2 linked regions of the Homo sapiens genome follow. The protein of the gene in region 1 interacts with the protein of each later gene in a pairwise test. Each region holds a gene or a part of one and is shown on either strand. Other genes may lie near its edges.

Region 1 (3,500 bases):
CTTGAGCCTGGGAGGCAGAGGTTGCAGTGAGCGGAGACTGCACCACCGCACTCCAGCCTGGGAGACAGAGTGAGACCCTGTCTCCAATATATATATATATTAAATAAATGGTTAAGAGCTAACCAAAGCATATAGAGGAATAGCTTTATAGCAAATAATGTAATGTGGAAATGCATAGGGCAGGATAGAACTTTGCAACTTCAAGAAAATAGAACACAGGAGGCTAATGCCTGTAATCCCAGCATTTTGGGAGGCCAAGGTGGGAGAATTCCTTGAGCCCAGGAGTTTAAGTTTAAGACCAGCCTGGGAAAAGTAGCAAGACCTCATCATTATGAAAAAATTAAAAATCAGCCAAGTGCAGTGGTGCTTGCCCAGAGTCCTAGCTACTCAGGAGGCTGAGGCAGGAGGACCCAGCATGAGCACAGGAGTTCAAGGCTATGGTGAGCTATGATCATGCCCTGCACTTCAGCTTGGGTGACAGACCAGAATTCCATCTCAATTTTTTAAACGAAAATAGAAGAAAGACAGGCGATTGGAACAAGAGAAGACTGAATAAGAGTGGTGTCATAATTGGAGGGGTATAAAGGGGTCAGGTCTTGAAAGGACTGGCAGAGGACTTTGAGGAGATTAGAGTTTGTCTAAGCTCTAGAGAAGATCTTGAAGAATTTTTGGCAGTGAGGTAAGGTTATCTAATTTATGTTTATACATATCTTTCTGAATATTTTGTAGATAATTTGTTGGAGTAGTGAAAGGGAGGGAATGAGAGGATGGATGCTATTTGCAGTGGTTGAGCCATAAATGGGCATTGGGTTAGTCTCAGATTATGACAGTGAAAATGGTGAAAATGGACAAGATCCGAACATACTTTGGATATTAAATCTAAAAGGCCTGTTGATAGAGGGAATATGGATTTATGAAGGGAATAAGAAGGAAATGCCAAGCCTGTCTCCAGCGTTTCGAGTTTAGCAATTGCTTGAATGGCTGTGTTATTTAATGAGATAGTAGCATCAAGAGGAGAAATAGTTTTTCAGAGTGGATGAAGTTTTGATATTTAGATTATTTAATATTGAGATTCTTCTGATTTATGCAGTAAGGAATATAAGATAGGCATTAAAAATAAGGTGCAAAACTTATTTTTAATCCAAAGCTTAAAAGAAATGTCAAAGCAGGAAACAAAATACACCAGCCATCCATACAGATGGTACTTAAAACCGCAGAGAGATGAGAAGGTCCAGGATTGAGTCAAAAAGAATCATCTTTTGTTGTGTGATCAACCACTCCAGTTTGCCTAAGATGAGGTTTTCCTGGCATGTGAGACTTTCAGTGCTACACCCAGCAAAGCCCTGGCAAACTCGATGAGTTGATTATCCTATCTGTAGTTCTGATGAGAGAATATCTAAGAAGACATATTTACCTAAGCCAGACACCAGACTAGTGACTAGTGGTCTGCACCACTAAAATTAATAAAAATAAAAAGGCTAAGTTTTCTCATTGACTTTTTTCATAAATTAGTAGTGAAGAGAGAAAGGGAATAGAGGGAGAGGTGAGAGAAAAGAAAGGTAAGAAAACACATTGACCTAGTATCTCAGCCCCAAAATATCCTAACCTATTCATTTCAATATCTTCCTTTTGGGTGAAGGAAATAGGAAAGAGCCACTTCAATTTCCTCTGTGATTAGAGGTTAACAAATTATTCCATTACTATTCTTTATCCAAAACTTATTTAAAAGTATTATTTGTGACACTCACTTGAAAAGCACACAAAATATTCTGTCCCACCAACTGATAGTCACATTTTTTTAAAAATTCCCTTTTGCAGGTCTAGAGAGCCTGGTGCTGACCTACGTCAATGCCATCAGCAGTGGGGATCTACCCTGCATGGAGAACGCAGTCCTGGCCTTGGCCCAGATAGAGAACTCAGCCGCAGTGGAAAAGGCTATTGCCCACTATGAACAGCAGATGGGCCAGAAGGTGCAGCTGCCCACGGAAACCCTCCAGGAGCTGCTGGACCTGCACAGGGACAGTGAGAGAGAGGCCATTGAAGTCTTCATGAAGAACTCTTTCAAGGATGTGGACCAAATGTTCCAGAGGAAATTAGGGGTATATTTGGTGTTCTACGTCATGAGAGGCAGAAAAATATGGGCCCTTCATGGGAAAATAATTCTTTCTAGACCCCAAAATAGTTACACTCAGTTATGTGTACATATTTGAAATAATCATTAAAAGACTAGAATGTGCATAGCCTTAGACCTTTAAAAAAAGACACCTAATTTTTTACTAAAATTTGCTTTTGTTAGTTTTTCCTCTCTGGGTCCCATATTTTAAGAAAGTAAGTAGATGGTACAACTGCATTGTTAAAGACTATTTTAACTTATTTTGTCCTTTTAAATTAAAAAATACATTGTTTTTATGTTCCCTGGTAATTATCAGTGGGGACTAAATTATTTTTAAATAACCCTAATAATTTTTTTAAATGTGAGCCAATGGTAAAATATTCAGAAGGCCAAGAAAGAGAAATTAATTATATAAATTTTATTAGAGAATGTTTTTAATGTCTGCCTCATTCCAAGTGAACAAAGTATTTTTGCATGCAGAATGACCACTTGACAAATGAAAGTCCTTTCCCTAGCTAGGAAGGCAGGATCTTATAAATGATACGTTGCTACAGTCAGAGGTTCTGGTGAAGCTAGATAGCCGATGTCAGCAATTGTCACCCTTCCAACCTAAGGAGGAAAGAGAAAGCTTCATAGTTAAGTTATCTTGAGTGATTTAATGTAGATAAATGTGCTGTTCTATGAGACTTTCCAAATACTGAAAATACCTATGGCACAATCTTCATTACTTTCATTAGCCCTATGCTGAGAAAATACACAAAAATATTCTTATGTTAAAGAATGTACTAAATAATCATGTACTCCTTACTGAGCACTTCTAAAAAGTCCCCGGGCTTAATACTTTACATCACCTCATATAACCCTGCAGAGAAATCTGTGAGATAGGTATTGTTCCTCTGCTGCACAGACAAGGAATCCTCAGTTCACAAAGACTGAGTGTCACAAGCCACAGTGTAGTGTATCCGGGAACTCCAGGCAGGCTGCCTGACTCCAGTGTTTGTGCTCAGAACTATTCCTGAAATGAGAGACTTGGAAAGATAAAAGTTTCGTATGAAATAGTGTATGTGCTTTGAGAATCATTCTCTGAAACAGGAAAACTGGGAGAAAGGAGCTTTAGGAAATCACAAACAGAGAAGTAGATAAATTTCTGCAATAAGCACAACTTAGGGATATTCTAGGATCTAACAGCAATGTGAGGAGCATGGCCCTATTTAGAGGGCCACAATTTCTGAAGGAGAAGCATTTTCCAGTCTCCACATAGTTAACATCCTCCTCATGGCTTTACTGAAACATCTGTGCTGTTTTGTCACTTCACAGGCCCAGTTGGAAGCAAGGCGAGATGACTTTTGTAAGCAGAATTCCAAAGCATCATCAGATTGTTGCATGG
Region 2 (3,500 bases), on another chromosome or scaffold:
TCCTTTTGGCTTACGCTTATGTCACTTACACTTTTACAAAGTTAAATCTTTCCATTCAACTTCTTCATCAAACTAGCAGGATTTTAAAAAGCTTCCCCCACCTGGTTTATTTTAAAGGGCATTTCCCTTGTGTATGTTTCGTCAAACGGTTCATTCCACTTTCCTTTGAAGTAGATGGCATTGACAAGAACCAGCCTGGTTTCTGCATCAATTGAGCTACCCGGCAACAACTCTTCAATTTTACCTTTCAAGAAAAGTAGAGACTACATTCAGTTGCTTTTTATAAGAACCTGATGCATTGGATGATCCTGGATCATTAGTTGAGAAGCAAACTTCTGTTTTCAACTTTGCTGAGTTTGGGTTGTTATGTAGAGAAATAAAAACAGCACATATGAGTGGTATTCATGATTACTGACACCTTGAGAACATCCACCAAGTTGAGGATGGTGAAAGATACCTAAGTCACTCGAGGAAAGCAGGTTGGTACAAAGTAGAAAAATTACACCAGGTTGGAGAACAAGACCAGCAGGAAATGTGATAGGCTGAAGGGGTGTTTGTCTCACATGGTTAATTGGAGTGTTTGATCCAACCCTTCATGATCACACCCAGTTCTAACATTCTGTGACTATACATGGACATGTCAGAAGCAACCAGAATGGACGGCTCAAAGCGGGAAGAGCTGACATTGGGCACATGGGGAGTTTCCAGAAGCTTTTGGAGGAGATATTCCTGCTGAATCCCCTCAACAAAGCACTAGGCATCCCTGGAAAAGAGGATGTGGGCAAACAAAGATCACCCCTTCTTTCCCTGGAGATCAAGTGGTACTGTTTCAATGAACTGAGGGCATCCCTGCTAACCCACTGCCTGAAGAGAGCATCCGTGGTAAATACTCCAAGCAGGAATGCGGGAAACAACTGCTGAGACTTTAAGCGAAGAACGTCTCCCATTCTTTACCGTCTCATTTATTCACAGAAATGGAAATGTTCCTGGTGGTACTAAGCATAATTGGCGCAGAGGAGTCTGAATGGTTCATCAGACCATCATTGGTCTTGGAGGCCTAGACTGGAACACGTCACTTTCTGAAATGTAGATGAATAAGGTTCAACCCCAAATGGAGGGTATTTTCAGTCTGTGGAACTGATCAGCCCTGAGAGAGGGTCGGCAGTTAACCAATCAAATGTAGGCTTATCAAGTCAAACTAAAGGAGCTTAAGTGGAAGACATGAAAAGTCAGGAGTGACCTTAGCAGGTAAAGGTAATGGTGATGGAGGTCCCCCAGAACCTAGGAAGAGGCAGCCCAAGTGTATACCTCAGGCAAGATCTGTCCACCAATCTCCTTCTCGCAGAGACAATGGAGTCACCTGACATGTGAATGTTACAGGCCAGGGAGAGTATATTTTAATGCAAGTTATTAAACTGGAAACCTGGCCTGAGATTCTTTTGACATTTGTTTTTTTGTTTGTTTTTTGTTTTTGAGACAGGCTGGAGTTCAGTGGCATGATCTCAGCTCACTACAACTTCTGCCTCCCAGGTTCAAGTGATTCTCATGTCTCAGCCTCCCAAGCAGCTGGGATTACAGGCATGGGCCACCACACCTGGCTAATTTTTGTATTTTTAGTAGAGATGTTGGGCGGGGGGGGGTCCCACCATGTTGGTCAGGCTGGTCTCGAACTCCTGACCTCAAGTGATATGTCCACTTCGGCCTTCTAAATTGCTGGGATTACAGGCGAGAGCCACCGTGGCTGGCCCTCTTTTGACATTTGTATCAGCTACTCTGGTCCTGGGAGAATAGACAAAAGTAAATCTCTGTTGCTGAAAACCTGAATGTCTGATCAGAACCTTTATGAGTCCATCAAGGTTCAGTATGCCAGGAGGCCCTGCCAGTCAACACTACTCTGACCATCTGAAACACCCGTGAAATTAGAGGGGGCGGAGTGGAGAGGTGGAGGTGGGTGAGGAGAGGGAGGAGGGATAGGAGGGAGAGGAGGAGGAGAGAGGATATAAGAGGCGGGAAGGAGGAATAGGAAGAGCCGCAGGAGGAGGACGGGTTGGGAGGAAGGTGCAATAACTTGTCATTCTGACCTTCGGTCTTTTTTGAGACCCAGGTGTTGATGTGTTTCCTGGACTCTTCTGCAGCTCTGATAAAGGAAAGCTCCTTCAGCTCAGCATGGTAGAATTGAAGACAGGATTCCTTAAACGTCTTTGGAGAGAAAAATGTTCAGTGAGGCTGCATTGCTAAATACAAATGTCAGCAAACTTCCAAAAATTCTAAATATGTTATCTTTTTTTAATAAAAAGAATATACATAACTCTTTAAAAGTGATCATATGAAGATATGTTAAAATATCAGAGTTTGTGAATAGGTATGTATTGAACCCTGAATAACCAGAAATGAACTTGAGAATTTTACCTTTCAATTTTACCTTTCAAGAAAAGTAGAGACTACTTTTGCAATACTAATGCAAGGTATAATTATAGAATTGCAGTCTTTAAAAAAAAAAAGAAGTTTAGGCTGGGCGTGGTGGCTCACATCTGTAATCCCAACAGGCAGGAGGATCACTTGAGACCAGGAGTTTAAGACCAGCCTGGGCAACGTAGTGAGACCCCATCTTAGAAAAAAAAATAGTGCAATTTTTTTAAATTGGTTAACATAAATTTCTCAATTTCTCTAGGGTCTTTCTCCCAGACTCTATATCACCAGGTATGTTGAATGCAACTTTTATTGTTCTATTGATTCAACTTACTGAGAGGAACTGACAAGTTTTCTCTCCAAAGAGCCTGTTGGCCGTTCTCAGCAGGTACTGTGTGCCAGCCTTGTTCACTTCAGTGAGAAGCGACTGGAAAGCCCGATGAATGTCTTCCTCTGTGTTTAAAGACAGTGCCTGTTGTGAAAGATAATTTTAAAAGTTATCAAGATAGCTCTTTGATGGCTGGGGAGAGGAGAGAGAGGGGACAGAAAACAGGCGAGTAAAAGATGTAGCCATTCTGCCTGAATGGATCTCGCTTGTTTAAAGATCAGTAACACACAAAAAATGACAAGGGTGAGAAAAGCTCAGAAAAGAGGTTGTGATAAAATCTTGCATCAAAAGGAAAATATAAATGTACCCTAAGTGGTGGGAAAATTACCTCTAAAATTTATAGTGAAAAAAAAAGATGCAGTTAAAAAGTTAAAAGCAGAAAAAATGCATGGAAAAATAGACGGAAATACAATCATCAGAATCCTCAAAAGGAAACAAGGATATTACATGAGCAATGTGATTAATAAGACAATAACACAGTTATTAAAATTGTACCCTATAGGGACTACATGTGTGTATATTAAATATTTCAAAATATATCACACATATTGGGCCATAAGAAAAGTCTCAACATCCCAATACATTCTGAAATACAGAATTATATAGATCATATTCTCTAACTTCAATGTAGTAACAAAAAATCAGCATTATAAATAAAATGCCAACAAAATGAAAATCACCTACAAAATATTACTGAAAACAC

Evidence for each region. The genes of interacting proteins can lie anywhere in the genome.
Region 2: the proteins of GBP2 (region 1) and SERPINB9 interact in a two-hybrid assay, tested with the Homo sapiens proteins (one large-scale study listed by BioGRID and IntAct).

The regions. Positions count from the first base shown.
Region 1 is NC_000001.11:89,112,615-89,116,114, reverse strand, and holds part of GBP2 (guanylate-binding protein 2), read left to right. Parts: intron 1-1,818; coding exon 1,819-2,099; intron 2,100-3,430; coding exon 3,431-3,500.
Region 2 is NC_000006.12:2,893,310-2,896,809, forward strand, and holds part of SERPINB9 (serpin B9), read right to left. Parts: intron 2,882-3,500; coding exon 2,744-2,881; intron 2,200-2,743; coding exon 2,082-2,199; intron 245-2,081; coding exon 102-244; intron 1-101. UniProt on the Homo sapiens protein: Granzyme B inhibitor.